Regions from separate parts of the Homo sapiens genome. Here region 2 is linked to region 1. The links come from fine-mapping of genetic effects on gene expression. Tissue or cell type: whole blood. Region 1 holds a variant in brackets; the other region holds the start of a gene. All regions are shown on one strand. Distances are from middle to middle.

Region 1 (8,000 bases):
ATTCATTAATTGTTCAACACACCAATATTTTATGAACCACTAAAAAAATATACAGTGCCAATTACAACATGTTTATTTTATTTTTTTGAGACGGTCTTGCTCTGTCACCTAGGCTGGAATGCAGTGGTGCAATCATGACTCACTGCAGCCTTGACCTCTGGGGCTGAATCAGTCCTCCTACCTCAGCCTTCCAAGTAGCTGGGACTACAGGCGTGTGTCACCATGCCCAGTACGCATCAGTAGTTTTTATAAATTTTTTTTGCAGTGTATTAGAATTGATAAAATATAGTATAGATGTCCTGTTATTATTAGTTGGCAGAAGTAGCTGCTATTCAAGAAAAGTCTTCAGTGAGAGAGCATTAAGGGCATTAAGTTTTTTGTGTTGTTTTTTTTTTTTGACATTTTTTAAGAAGCATCCTCTGCTTAGCTACTTTCCCAAAGCTTTTTCCTTTCTCATTCCTAGTGACATATGTGCTATGCATCATCCTAGCTCCAGTTATGCAGATGTTTAAATGAGTTTGGCCATGCTGCTTCCCCACAGGCAGGATCAAACACCAGTTGACCCCTCTTAGGAGTATCTAGGAGCTGATCTAGAATGGTTTCTCCATTCCCAAGATTTCAGGGTACTGCCTGTGGAAGTTGAGGATATTTACCCAATAGAATCAATGACTTTCTTTCAGAAAGGTTATCTTACTATGGATCTCATTAAACAAGCATGTGTTTGTAGCCTGGTATACCCAACGTGGTTGTTTTAAAATAGAGGATACCAGAGCTTATACAGAGAAGACCCTTTTCTTGCTCATTAGAACCAAGGGCAATTTGGAGCTTTCCTAAAAATCCTCAGAGATGGTGACTAACAAAAGTTGTCAGTGAGTGCTTACTTTTCAATGCCCTCTCACTGAAGACTTCTCTTGAATAGCAGCTGCTTCTGCCAACTAATAATAACAGGACTATATTTTATCTATTTTATAGATAAAATATCTATACTATATTTTATCAATTCTAATACACTGTCAAAAAAAAATTATAAAAACTACTGACGCATACTGGGCATGGTGGCACACGCCTGTAGTCCCAGCTACTTGGGAGGCTGAGGTAGGAGGATTGGTTGAGCCCCAGAGGTCAAGGCTGCAGTGAGTCATGACTGCACCACTGCACTCCAGCCTAGGTGACAGAGTGAGACCCTGTTTCAAAAAAATAAAATAAACATGTTGTAACTGGTACATTAAGTGCCACAGAATTTCAGCACAATGCAGAGTTCACACCAGTTAGAACAATTCAGAGGTGAAATCCCAAAACAACAAAATTCTTCTGATAACTAACCTCCACATATTGGCCTAAAAACTCACCTTGTTACACCAATCCAAGCTAAGTGGATAGACCTGAGCTTCAAAAACTAAAGTAACTGTTACCACATCAGAAGCAATTTTAAGAAGTTTTCTTTCTCATTTAAGCTGGTTCACAAGATACTATTACCTGTTTTTATTAATTCTTTAATCAGATCTTCCTTCATCTTGATGTTAATTGTAAGTTCTCTCATTTTTTGTTTAGCTTCAGTAAGTATGCGTTCTGAATTCTTTAATTTTTGCAAATTCAATTCTTGACTCTCCTGGAGACAATCAATCTTTAAATCTTTAAAAAAAAATGGAGAAATAAAACTATCTGCTGGTAAAATATTCAACAGAAGTAGAGTTAAAAAAAGAAAAGCAGACTCAAAAGCAATTTAGAGGTGGCAGTGGAAGAGACAAAAAGGAAGGGGAGGAAAAAGGGGAAAAAATACACAGCAATTGGGACTCTAGCATTCCAGCTTACAGTAAGAGTTTTTATTTTCTTACAAATTAATACATGTATGTATATATTCTTTCTTAATATCCCATAAGTTCAGACACACAGTTTTTCATTGCCTTTAACATGAGTTATTTGAGATAGGTATAAAATTTCCAGATGGAGAGAGGGGTGAATTTGTTTCCTATCAACTTCTACTTTTACTGTAATTGGAGAATGCAGACTATACCAGGCTACTCAGAGTGTGGTCTAGCACTGTTTGTTACTGTCCTGCACCAGAATGTAAATCAACTATGTCACTAAGCACACTGCTTTAGTTCAGGTGACATTTTTTTCATAGCCAGACTTTCTCAAGGAAGGAACTAGTGTAAGCTCATTTACATTCCGACGTAAGTTTTTTTCCTGGTTGCAGAGCAGTAACAAACAGCTCAAGCATGGCTGCTTGAGTAGCATTTACCTTTATTATTTCCACATTTTGAAATTTATTTTAGTTATACTTAAATTTTTGGCTCATAAAGCCACGTATAGGTTCTTAAAGAGATGCTCTATATTTTCAAAGTGTAGCACTTGTATTATCCCTATTCCCTTATTTTTTGTGGGTCAACCACGCATTGACCAAGAGAGATGAGTTAACAAAATCTCCTACTACCGGCTGGGCACAGTGGCTCATGCCTGTAATCCCAGCACTTATTGATGCATAAAAATTCTTAGCAGTTGTGTACTAAAACATTACCAACACCCAGTACACTAATTGGGCTCTAATGCCAAATACATCATTGATGTTAGGCACAAGTCCCAGTGAAGGAGTAGACACCTAGTACAATTATTTATACTGTATTTTAACATCATCAGGAATACAAAGCATATCAATTCAGGTCTGAATATAAAAATCCTTATTCTGAGGGAGTTAGCCTATATCTCTCGCTATAATTAATTGATAGAAAATCTTTTTTTATTAAGGAGTAAAAGAGTAAAAGAGGTAAAACAGAGAACATAAAAGAAGTTCTACCAACTAGGAAAGCATTTGTACCAAATTCTGGTCTTTGAGAATTCCTGGATGTTTCTTAAATTATCAACTGAGGAAAAAGATAAGTGTCCTATAACCATTAGGTCTACATTATTTAAGAAGATCTATGTACCTTCATTCTCCAAATCTGACTTTTGTGTTTCATCCTGAGTATCACTCAATTCAACAAGGGAACAAACAGAGTCTGGCTTCTGAATCCATGAACGACTTCTACATCTTAAAAAAAAATCAGAAAGTTAACTTATTTGTTCGTGTTTTCTAATCTGCCCTCAAATTAGTTTCCCCGAAAAGTGAAAGTAATGTTAAAAAAATTATTAGTTACATATAAAAACAGAATGTTACTAATATTGCTCAAAATAAAAGGATGCCCCCCCCATCCATGTTGAATCCAGTAGAAAAGTCATGTTTGTTGCCAACGTGGCAGCAGAATAAGGAAATCCAAAAAAAAAAAAAAAAAAAAACCTCTGAAAATTAGAATCTCATTACTATAAAAGCTCTAAAAGCAAAATTATTTTTCAGTTATAAGACTGATGACTTGTGTTCAAATACTATTTTCATAACACATTAGATGATAGTACTTTTAGCAAAAGTTACCTACTCTTCTATTAAACATAAAAGATATACTCCAATGGAAAAAACCTACACTTCTATATTTATTGCAGCATATAATTCTAAATATTTATTAAATCAGTGTATATTTAACATACCTAGTTCCAGATTTCTCTTGGCCTTCTGATTCTTCATCATCACTGTTATCAGAAAATTGGCAGTGGAGGACCTTATCTTGTTCTTCTATGTGACCCAACAGCATCTGACTTCGTGTTCGAAATCCAGCAAATATTCGATCCAGAGAGTACATAGGCGGACTTGTGTGGACCTTGCAAGTGATTCC[C/T]CCACCCAACAACAAAAAAAGTGATATTTTAAAAGTCTAATTTTATCCTATTACTCTAAGTGCTTTTAAAGGGGTTATTAGATTGGCACTCTTAAAATAGCCAATCACTGGAAAATGCTCCCCTCAAACAAAGGTCAAAATTAATTTAACAATACTGTTGTGCCTCACAGACAAATACTTCTTTCAGAATCCACACAGCTCCTTCTCTTCTGGACAACTCTTCTATCTTCACTTACAGAAAACAGTATTCAAAAATGAAACCAAAAGAACGCATGGAAAACATCCTAGCTCTTAAACACAACACAGACACACCCCAACAAATGTACCCTCTTCCCCATCTTCCCAGTTCAGAACACCTGGAGAACTGTGGTGCTGCCGCCAAAGGTCTGCATCCCCTCCAATCCAAATCCTACCACAGGAAGAAACCCAGAGCCGTCTCCACTCCCTCTGCCAGGGCAATATTCCTAATCTGAATACCACAATGTATATACTTATTCTTTATACATGGTAGTTAGGTATAGCTGAATTAAGGCTCTAGGAAAAATATTTAATATATGTCATAGGACAAATAAAATCGTATGGCTAGCCTGGGAGTTTTCTATAGTACAACATTCTTCTATTGGAAATGCACTTTAAATTCTCAAAAAAAAATGACCTTGGAAAACAACAACAATAAATTAGAAATTGCCTTTATACCTTTGTTCTGGTTTCTATTACAAAATATTTCCTCTGCACCATCTCTGTAACCAAATCTCAAGATGACTTCTCTCAAAAGGCAATAAAATCTTAGAGGAGACAGTCCATTTATCAATATAAATTATTATAAGCTGTTAAAATTATAACATATAGTGGAATATGAGTATCACACAGTGTTTAGGATTTAATCACTTGACAATAGGCCCCCGTCATGTATTCTCTCCTAAAAAATCCTACCTGATTCTGAAAATCATCTTATATCTGATTTTTGTGCTTCTGCTGTCAGTCACCTAATTAGATCATCTGTCACATCAGCATCATGATAGATGGGCGTAAAGTTTTTTAGGTGGCCTCCCAATGGGGTATGAGGGAGGGGAATTCTTTAAGAAGAACCAACTCAAGAAGTACTGATCTAACAAATACAACGTACTAGACATGGCTATTTTATCCCATAACTGGCAGGCATCTAGTTTTCTTTTGTGAGAGTTTGGGAATTATTTAAGGAGCAAATAATAAAATCTTTGTTCAGAGTCCAACTTCATTCTCTGGGATTGTAATTTCCTTTTAAAATTTCTTTTTACAAAGAAAACCAAATGTCCAGAGCTATTATAGTATTCATACCACCCAAGGCTGCCTGATGCAAAGTCCATGACACTGCTCATGTATCACTTGCCTTTCATTTCTTATCCCTCTGACTGTAACAACCAGATGGATCTCACGTGAACAAATCATTTCCCTTCATAAAATGAGGAAACAGAAACCAGAATTCATGAACCTGCTAAACCAAAACTCATGAATCTGCTAATTACGTCTTTTCCATAATAGAGATTCTTTGATAATTCTTAAAACTGTGTGTGTATATATTTACCAACCACACACAAACTAAAATTTATATTGATATTTATATTGTCTTGATTATGTCTACTTGGTAAGACTGAACAGCATATAAATATTATTTCAAAAATGACAGACCAAACAAGTTGAAATAAATATCCTCTAACATCTCAACTTTGTGTGGTTAAAGGAAGAAATAAATTCATGTAGATATTAAACTTGGTCATGTCTGAAAATATGGCAAAGGATACCTTTTTCACATTGAAGAAGTATGGACATTATCTCCATCCAACTATTCCCTCCAAATGTAACTGTGTATTCTCTTGTTTATTAGTTTTTTTATTAGAAAGAAGTATGCTTAAAAGAAAAGGTATACACAAAATTCCATAAAATCAAACAAAAAAAATCTGCTGAGACTGTATAAATACACTGTGATATTACACATGGCTAAAATTTTTTTAATCTCCAAATAAGGAAAAGATTGTTTGGACTTTACCTTCCTGGAATCTTGTCTTGATGGGATATAAATATAATGCCCCAAATGAGTATCAAATGGTACAGTATATGGTCTCCTTTCAGGGATCCTGGCATCTGGCCCATCTCCACAATTTTCTTTAGCTGAAGAAGTCACTGACAGGTTAAGTTTTGTTAGTTCTTCACTCAGTTGATCCACAAGAAGTTGTTGTTCTATTATTTTTTCATTCTTTGTAGAAGAGAGATGAAAATTTTTAATATAGAGCACTTCAGTACATTTAGATTATGATTAAAAATGAATTTTACATTGACCAAAATCATAACTACTTTAATAATACAGTCAATTCTCATTTATCCAGAGACTAGCTCTCTGGTGTTCACAAGTAACTAACATTGTTCTGAGTGGTAAAACCTTTTTAATAGTAAGGAGCAACAAACACAGCCAAAAAAGTCAAAAGTCAAATACTCAAAGATAACACGCCATCCACTGTGACTGGATGCTTTGCCAACCTGAAGCACTTTGATTAGCTATCTTTATTAAAGTATGGACTTTCTGAGTGAAATCCAAGAAGTAAAAAGAAACAAGAAAGTTCAAAAAGTGGAGAAAGAATTGTAGGCAGCAGAGTTTGCAGCAAAGGAGGCAGAAGGAGGTAACAAGTGCAGGGAAGTGAAAGCCTTAGTGAAAAAGGAAGCCAAAAGCAGACAGATAGAAGATAGCCAACTGATAGTCCTGAGAGGAAGGAGAACTTGGAAATCAAAGGCAGAACAAATTGTGTATCAGGAATGTGTGTGTGTGTTTGTGTATATGTGGTTTAGTATTTTTTGTGTATCCTCTAAAGAAAATTTTTGAAGTGTATCAAATCTAGAAAGCTCTAATGTCAATCTTTGTTTTACAAGCACAAATTTATGTAAATAAGAAACAGTCATTCATCTTAATACTTCACATGTACTACAATGTTGAAATAGGAAAAAAAACCTTACATTTTCATTGTATAAATGCTGAGCAATAAAAATGCAACCTTACTTAAAAATCACGTATTCAGATAATTAAAATATACAACATCAAAGGATTCAATGGAGTTCTTACATTGCCTGGGAAAAGGATAAAAGTACCAATTAATATTAGGGTGCATGGTATACTCTCTAGGATAACCACTAAAAAAAGAGTAAAACTATAACTTCTAAGTTAGTGGAGAAAACAACAGAAAAAGAAAAAATAACCAATGATCCAAAAGAGGGAAAAAGGAACACAGAGGAGGAAGGATAAATAAAAGGCACAATGGTGGATTTTTACCAAAACAGTAATTATGTTAAATTAATGAATGAATAATGAAATTAAAAGATAAAGACTATCAGAAAGGATTTTAAGATTATCTAACCATATGCTGCTTACAAGAAACATATCTAAAATAGACACAGAAAGATTAAAAATAAGATAGAAAAAGAGATACCATGTAAATATTAATCAAAAGAAAGCTGGTGTAGCTATAGTAATGTCAAGGTAAGCTTTAAGGCAAAACTCATTAGATAAGAAGAGGTAAAAATGATTAAAAGAGCAATTCACCAGGATGGTATAACAATTCTACATTTGTGTCCACTTAATAACACAGCTTCAATATTTGTAGTGCAAAAACTATCAGCACTTCAGGGAGAAATAAGACAAATCCAAAATTATAGTAGGGCTGGGCACAGTGGCTCACACCTGTAATCCCAGCACGCTGGGAAGCCAAGGCCAGTAGATCACTTGAGCCCAAGAGTTTGAGAGCAGCCTGGACAACATGGTGAAGAACCCCTTCTCTACAAAAAATACAAGAATTAGCAGGGCATTGTGGTGTGCACCTGTGGTCCCAGCTACTCAGGAGGCTGAAGTGGGAGGACTGCTTGAGCCCAGGAGGTCGAGGCTACAGTGACTCATGATCGTGCCACTGTGCCCCAGCCTGGGTGACAGAGTTGAGGTCTGTCATAGTGGGAGATTTTAACATCACTTTATAAATTACTGATATAACAAAAAGACTTCAAAGGTGAGTAAAAAATGTAGATTTGAATAATAGGATTAACAGTGCCCAATGACTGCAGAATGCATATTCTTCTCAAGTACCTCTGTAACATTTACAAACATTTGCCTTATTCTGAGCCAAAAAGCAAGTTTCAATACATTCAAAGGACTGAAATCAGAGATAGTATGTTATCTGATCACAATGCAATAAAAATTGATTAAAGAAAAATAAATCCCCCATGTCCTGTAAATAAAATAACTATGTTATTCACAAGTCAAAAAAAAAGTCACAATGA
Region 2 (8,277 bases), 32 kb after region 1:
AAGTATAAGAATACTCTTTTCAACAAATGGCACTGGGACAATGGATAAAATAATGAAGTTGGACTCCCTACCTCATATCATATACAAAAGTTAACCAAAAATGGACCATAGACCTAAACATAAGAAGTAAAACTACAAAACTCTTAAAAGACAGGAGTAACTCTTTATGACCTTGGATTTGGCAATAATTTCTCAGATATGACACCAAAAGCAATAAAATAAAAAATACCAATTTGAACATTATACATTGTATACATGTACTGAAAAATCACACTGTACCCCATAAATATGTACAATGATTTTGTCAAACAAAAATAATAATAAAAGCAAAAAATAAAGATGAAGTATAGATTAAAAAATAAGTAAGACCCAGCCTGGGCAATATAGTGAGACGCCATGTCTACAAAGAAATTTTTTTTTTCAATCAGCTCAGCATGGTAGTACGCACCTGTGGTCTCAGCTACTTGGGAAGCTAAGGCGGGAGATTGGCTTGAACCCAGCAGCCAGAGGTTACAGTGAGCTGTATCTGCACCACTGCACTATAACGTGGACAACACTATAATGTGGACAGCAGAGCAAGAACTTGTCTCAAAGAGAGAGAGAAAGAGAGAACGAGAGAAATGGGGGGGGGGCAGGACAGGGAGGGAGAGGAGGGAGGGAGGGAAGGAAAAACGACATCAAAATTAAAAACTTTGTGCCTCGAAGGAAACTACCAAGAAAGTGAAAAGACAACTCACTGAATGGGAGAAAATATTTGCAAGACATATATCTAACAAGGAACTTGCAACTAGAATATATAAATATTATAACTCAAAAAGTTTTTTAAAAATTTTAAATAGGCAAAGCATCCGAAAAGGCAGTTCTTCAAAGAAGATATACAAATGAATAATGAGCACATGAAAAGATGCTCACCATCATTAGCTATCAGGAAAATGCAATCAAAATCACAATGAGAGGCCAGGTGCACAGTGGTTCATGCCTGTAATCCCAGAATTTTAGGAGACTGAGGTGGGAGGATGACCTGAGGTCAGGAGTTCAAGACCAGCCTGGACAACATGGTGTAACCCCATTGCTACCTAAAATACAAAAATTAGCCAGGCGCAGTGGCTCAAACCTGTAATCCCAGCATTTTGGGAGGCCGAGGTGGGAGGATCACCTGAGGTCAGGAGTTCGAGACCAGCCTGAACAACATGGTGAAACCCCGTCCTTACTAAAAATACAAAAATTAGACGGGCATGGTGGTGGGCGCCTATAATCCCAGCTACTAGGGAAGCTGAGGCAGGAGAATCGCTTGAACCCAGGAGGCAGAGGTTGCAGTGAGCTGAGATCGAACCACTGCACTCCATCCTGGGCGATACACCAAGACTGTCTCAAACAAACAAACAAACAAACAACAACCACAATGAGATACCAATCCACATCCACTAGCACTGCTATAATAAAAAAGACAGATCATAAGTGTTGGCAGGGTATAAAGAAATTAGAACCCTCATACACTATTTGTGGGAAGGTAAAATGGTATAGCCACTTTGGAAAACAGACTGACATTTCTGCAAAAAGTTAAACATACAGTTATCTCTTGACCCAGCAATTCCACTCCATCAAATGATCCAGCAATTCCACTCCCAAGAGAAATGAAAACATTGTGTTCGCATAAAAACTTACATACAAATGTTCAGTTTTGGAAGGATAAAGCTTATACAAAATTTAACAAGTAATCTATGACAATGTTTGAGTGCAGATGATGAAAAGTAATGAATTTGAGGTGAGGTTAGGTTCTTTGGAAAAGCTGCTGAGTCTTGAAGATTACCATTAAGTAACACAGACAACTAGACTGAAATAATATTTTATTAATAACACTAACAACAATGAATTGATAATATTCACTACCCTTGAAAAAAAAAAAACCATGGCCCAGCACGGTGGTTCACATCTGTAATCCCAGCACTTTGGGAGGCCAGGGCGGGTGGATCACTTGAGCCCAGGAGTTCGAGACCAGCCTGGGCAACATGGAGAAACCCTGTCTCTACTAAAAATACAAAAATTAGGCAGGCATGGTGGCGTGCGCCTGTAATCCCAGCTACTCAGAAGGCTGAAGCGAGAGGATCCCTCCTGAAAACAAAACAAAACAAATGTGAGCCACGATGCCCAGCCTCATTTCTTGGGGTTTTTAATGGTAATATCTATAAAGAATTTGGTTATAAAGGCAACTGAAACTTATTCTAAGCATTAAAAAAAATAATAATGGGGCCGGGCACAGTGGTTCACACCTGTAATCCCAGCACTTTGGGAGGCCAAGGCAGGTGGATCGCTTCAGCCCACGAGTTCCAGACCAGCCTGGGCAACATGGTGAAACCCTGTCTCTACTAAAAATACAAGAATGTGCCAGGCTGTGGTGACGCACCTGTAGTCCCAGCTACTTGGGAGGCTGAGATTGGAGGATCGCTTGAGCCCGGGAGGTTGAGGCTGCAGTGTGCCACTGCACTCCAGCCTGAGTAACAGAGCGAGACCCTGTCTCAAAACAAAACAAACAAACAATAGTAATGGTCCACAAACATAGGGCTTGTAAAACATCAATATACAAGAAATAAAGTTTTTACACAATCCATAGCACTTATACTTCAGATTCTGATCAATTATAGTCATCAGAAACATACGTATTATGTTGCCAATAAATGATTTAAAAAAAAGCAAAATCTGATTGGTCGTATTTAAGTATACTCAACGGGTTTTTGAAATCTGAGCAAAGGCAAGAGAAATATTGAATCCCTCATGTCATGTCACTGGTCAGGAATGAGTGTCTCCAAAAACCGTTGCCATCCCGTACCCTTGATTTCCCAGAAAGCAGTGGTTGTCTTAAATGTGTGGTTTGTTAATTATTTTCATAAAAAACTTGCCAGTAGATGGACAGTAAATCGCATACGGAGCTCAGAAAAGGCCCCAAATGCGTAAAGACGACAAAAGAGTAAAGAAGGGCAAACAACAAGGATTTTCAACACTGGAGACTTAAAAGGTGTTACTTAAAAGGTGTTTCAAAGAAAGAATCTGGGCGCTTTGCTCTTTATAGTCACCTGCCTCCGAGGGAGGGAGCTCTCGGGCTTGAATGTGCCCAAGGTTCAACCTCTACGGTAGGAAATGCGCCCAAGTTTCAACCTCTACGGTGGGAAATGCGCCCAAGTTTCAACCTCTACGGTGGGAAATGCGCCCAAGTTTCAACCTCTACGGTGGGAAAAAGACGCCTGCGATAAAACAAAGCGCTCGGTGGTGGTGGCCCTCGCGTCGCACCTCACGCCGTGCAGCGACACGAGACGAACACAGGGTGCGCTCTGAAAGGCCGGGTCCCGCGTTCCGGTCGATCGGTGTTCCCCGGGACCCGCTCCTCAGGGCTGACCCAACTTCCTCCGGAAGGGGCGCTCTGCCTCTAGTCGCTCGCCGGCTCCCAGCCCCGACCCCAGACCCCTCGGACGCCCCCATAGGCCTAGCTGGCGCCCCAACCGCCCACCCTCCGCTACCCACCCGCGGCGGCCCCGACCCCAAGCCGGAGCCTACTAGTCCCAACGGCCGGCTGGGGGCGCGGGAGCGGCGGGCGCGGCGGGCTGGAGGGCGGGCACCGCGAAGGGAGGGCGCCCCACTTCCCCGCACCGCCCGCCAGGCCCGCCGAGCACTGACCGGCTCGGGACAGCCCAGGCCCCTGTCGGCGAGCGCTGGACTCCTCAGCTTCGCTCTGCCACACCGCGCAGCCGCCGTCCGCGTCTTTTGTTGTCGCGAGTTCTCCTGGCAACCGGCGAAGCCCGCCTCCCGCCGCGTCCTCTCCTGGATGCCGCGTCCTGGCCCCGCCCCCATCCTGGCCACGCCTCCAAGCCCGCCGCGCAGGAGTCCTGCGTCCCCAGGAAGTCCGCAAAGGGCCGGCCCCTGGGCTTGCCTGCAAATCCGAGTTGTGTCCCACCAACGCGCTGGGACCGGTCTGTGAGGCCTGAGCGCAAGCATCTTTCTACGGGTTCGTGAAATGAGTGAGAACGATTCCACACCGTGTTTCAATATCTTAGCTACCAATTCAGTTTATTTTTATTTTTATTGAGTAAAACTTGCCTAACATAAACCATCTTAAAACTCACAATTCAGTGGCGTTTAATGCATTCACAGTGTTGTGCAACCATCACCTCTGTATATAGTTCAGAAACATTTTCATAACCCCAAAAGAAAATCCCCAAACCAGTTAGCAGTCATTCCTTCTGGTTCCCCTCTCCCCACAACCCCAGCCAGCCACTAATCTACTTTCTGACTCTGTGATAGCTTTACCTATTCTGGGCATTTCTTTATTGATGGAATCATTCAGTATATGACCTTTTGTGTCTAGCTTCTTTTGCTTAATGTTTTCAAGATGCAGTCATGTTGTAACATCTATCAGGACTTCTTTTCTTTTTTTTCTTTTCTTTTTTTTGAGACCGAGTCGCGCTCTGTCGCCCAAGCTGGAGTGCAGTGGCGTGATCTCGGCTCTCTGCAACCTCCACCTCCCGGGTTCAAGCGATTCTCCTGCCTTAGCCTCCCGAGTAGCTGGGATTACAGGCGCGTGCCACCACGCCCGGCTAATTTTTTGTATTTTTAGTAGAGACGGGGTTTGTTTCACTGTGTTAGCCAGGATGGTCTTGATCTCCTGACCTCGTGATCTGCCCGCCTCGGCCTTCCAAAGTGCTGGGATTACAGGCGTGAGCCACCACGCCCGGCCCTTTAGATGGAGTTTCGCTCTTATTGCCCAGGCTGGAATGCAATGGCGCCATCTAGGCTCAACGCAACCTCCACCTCATGGGTTCAAGCGATTCTCCTGCCTCAGCCTCCGGAGTAGCTGGGATTACAGGCATGAGCCACCCTGCCCGGCCCTATCAGGACTTTTTAGGGCTGAAAAAATTCCATTGTATGGATATAGACATACCACATTTTGTTTATCCATTCTTCAGCTGGTGGTGGACATTTGGGCTGTTTCCATGCTGCTATGGACATTCACATACAATATTTGGATGTCTGTTTTCAGTTCCTTTTTTTTTTTTGAGATGGAGTCTCGCTCTGTTGCCCAGGCTGGAGTGCAGTGGCGCTATCTCAACTCACTGCAAGCTCCGCCTCATGGGTTCAAGCAATTCTCCTGCCTCAGCCTCTGGAGTAGCTGGGATTACAGGCATGTGCCACCACCACGCCTGGCTAAGTTTTCTGTATTTTTAGTAGAGACGGGGTTTCACCATGTTGGTCAGGCTGGGCTCGAACTCCCGACCTCAGGTGATCCGCCCACCTTGGCCTCCCAAAGTGCTGGGATTATAGGCGTGAGCCACCGCGCCGAGCCTGTTTTCAGGTCTTTTAGGTATGGACGTAAGAGTGGAATTGCTGGGTCGTATGGTAATATTTAACTTTACCAATTTAGTTTTAAATGCTTTAATGCCTCCTGTTTTTAGTAGCACAATCTAAGCATCTTCAAAAACCCTTCCTTCTCTCATGAAATATAGGAATGAAGGTGGGGGAAAAAAGCTGACTATTTTATTTATAGTTTTTATTTTTTTTTCTTTTAACTGAATTATTTAAAATTTTAAAAATTCAGTCTGGGCACAGTGGCTCACACCTGTAATCTCAGCACTTTGGGAGGCTGAACTGGGAGGGTCACTTGAGCCCAGGAGTTTGAGACCAGCCTGGGCAACATAATGAGACCCCCCATCCCTACAAAAAATCAAAACTTAGCCAGGTGTGGCTGAGTATGCCTGCAGTTCCAGTTACTCTGGAGGTGGAGGTGAGAGAATGGTTTGAGCCTGGGAGGTCAAGGCTGCAGTGAGCTGTTGTTGCACCATGGCATTGCAGCCTGGGTGACAGAATGAGACTCTACCTCAAAAAAATAATAAATAATACATAATTTTTAAAATTCTAAGATTTCATTTATACACATACCTGTGTATTGAGTCATGATGTCAAGGGAATGTCTGATAGTGGCTCAGTATCAATCAAATGCGAAAGCCAGTGTCCTGGGCTTGCTTTTCAGATTGGGGTGATGGATTATTTCCTAGTCTTCCAAGGTTCCCCTCATGATTGGTGGAGATTGTGGTTGCCCAATTTGACTATAGGGCCAAGTTGCATTTTTAGAACTCTTTGAAAACAAACAAAAACTCACATCATGACTGTGAATTGGTAAGTCAGACTGGTCTGCTGACAAAACTTCAATAATTAATAGTACGTAACAATTTAAGTCTAGGAATACCCAGAAGTCTCAACAGAAGTTCTCAAGAGGCCACACAATTGCAGAGAGGAGGTCAGCAAATGCCCAACAGCATTAGAATGGGGCATTTTCCATTGTCCCCAAATTGATGTCTTGAGTCCAGAGTTAGAGAAAAGGAGTTACTTAAGTTCCCCACACTGTGAAGTGAATGCCAGTCATTGCCAACCCCTCCTCCCTAGGATTTATAGCAGGACTAAGCTAATTCCATTCAAATTCCAATCCTATCTCTTTTTTAAGTATCTGTAAGAAAGACTCGGCAGTGGAGTCAAGGGGTCTTGGGCCTTGTGGGTTGGAGAGTAAGAGGCCTCCCACCTAAGTCAAAGGAGGCTCTAAGAGTGACGGGCAAACCCTGTGTGATGTGCTAGAAGAGGAAACCTGGCCTTCTGGTGGGAGCAACTAGGGGAAGAAGTGAGCTGATCTTCTTCTCAAGAATGGAGCGAAGCAACTGAGATGTTGCTGTAGTAGAGCAGTCTGTGTTCCTGCAGTTTAGCAGGGGGAGAAGCTGTGATTTGCTCATGGTCCAGGGGATCCTTTGGAGGGTACCCAAGCTTGAGCCCCATGAAGATTGTCTTGAGGACTGTCTCCTGCAGATAAGTCCCCATCAGTAAGAGGCAGTGGGAGGAGCTGGGCTTGGGATTAGCAGAAGTAATTGAGCCAGTGCTGGATCTTCTTAAGGGAACTAGGTCTTCTCCTTAAGGGAACTGTATCTTTCAGGTCCACTGAAGAACTCTGCATATGTCCCATGGGAGACCAGCTTTGGGCTGCTTGTCCTACAGAGAAAAACATCCATGCCCAGTCCACTTTACCAGAAAAGCAGTAACAAACAGAAGATTACAGCTAGACCAAATTAAATAAAGAAATATGTGCCCTTTTCGCCTAAATCATCTTCCCTCACCCATATTTTGAGAAAAGCTGGATCCAGGAAAGAAAGGAAGTATTAAAGGAAGTATTAAGGAAACCACAGATCATACCTCTTCTCCCACTTTAAATTCTTTTAATGTTGCTATAATGTTTGATGAATTCCCTTAATTTCTCTGGCGGGGAGAAAAGAAGCTTTATACTTTAAAAATGGGGTTTCTTTAAAAATGGGGGTGGGCGGTGGTGCACGCCTGTAATCCCAGCACTTTGGGAGGCTGAGGCGGGCGGATCATGAGGTCAGGAGTTCGAGACCAGCCTGGCCAACATAGTGAAACCCCGTCTCTGCTAAAAATACAAAAATTAGCCGGGCATGGTGGCATGGCCCTGTAGTCCCAGCTACTCAGGAGGCTGAGGTGGGAGAATCGCTTGAACCCAGGAGGCGGAGATTGCAGTGACCCGAGACCATGCCATTGCACTCCAGCCTGGGTGACAGAGTGAGACTCCGTCTGAGAAAAAAAAAGGGGGAGGGGTGGTTTCTGTGCCATCATTTTGCCTTTGGCTCCTTAACTTAGTGCAGAGAATGTTAGCTTTCCTAAGGAAACATACTGCTTGGGTCCTGTCAACTGGTGCCAGGTGGATTTGCTTGGCCCTATGGTCAAATTGGGCAACCACAATCTCCACCAATCATGAGGGGAACCTTGGAAGACTAGGAAATAATCCATCACCCCAATCTGAAAAGCAAGCCCAGGACACTGGCTTTCGAATTTGATTGATACTGAGCCACTATCAGAAATTCCCTTGACATCATGACTCAATACACAGGTATGTGTATAAATGAAAACAAGGCCAGGCACAGTGGCTCATGCCTGTAATCCCAGCACTTTGGGAGGCCAAGGCAGGTGGATCACTTGAGGTCAGGAGTTCGAGACCAGCCTGGCCAACATGGTGAAACCCCTCTCTACTAAAAATACAAAAATTAGCCGGGTGTGGTGGTGCGTGCCTGTAGTCCCAGCTACTCGGGAGGCTGAGGCAGAAGAATCACTTGAAACCGGGAGGCAGAGGTTGCAGTGAGCCAAAATCATGCCACTGCACTCCAGCCTGGGAAACAGAGCGAGAGTCCGTCTCAAAAAAAAATAAATAAAATAATAAAAATAAAAATACAAAAATTA

The links. PIP is the estimated chance that this variant, and not a neighbour inherited with it, causes the effect.
Region 2: it holds the start of KIF27, and the variant in region 1 is fine-mapped to the expression of KIF27 in whole blood (TOPMed, PIP above 0.99).

The regions. Positions count from the first base shown.
Region 1 is chr9:83,885,565-83,893,564 of GRCh38, forward strand. KIF27 (kinesin family member 27) reads right to left here. Exons shown (of 18, transcript NM_017576.4): 6 at 5,731-5,937; 7 at 3,520-3,689; 8 at 2,925-3,028; 9 at 1,477-1,632. Among named protein-coding and RNA genes, the nearest start is that of KIF27, 32 kb to the right of the region's middle. The variant C/T (reference allele first, on the strand shown) is at 3,705.
Region 2 is chr9:83,917,702-83,925,978 of GRCh38, forward strand. KIF27 (kinesin family member 27) reads right to left here and starts at 3,731. Exons shown (of 18, transcript NM_017576.4): 1 at 3,670-3,731. It overlaps LOC105376335 (serine/arginine repetitive matrix protein 1-like), which reads left to right and starts at 3,200. Exons shown (of 3, transcript XM_011519284.2): 1 at 3,200-3,560; 2 at 3,653-3,997; 3 at 6,965-7,184. The coding sequence starts at 3,200. The coding sequence ends at 7,101. RefSeq lists enhancers at 3,263-4,012, 4,627-5,131 and silencers at 3,334-3,713, 3,744-3,893.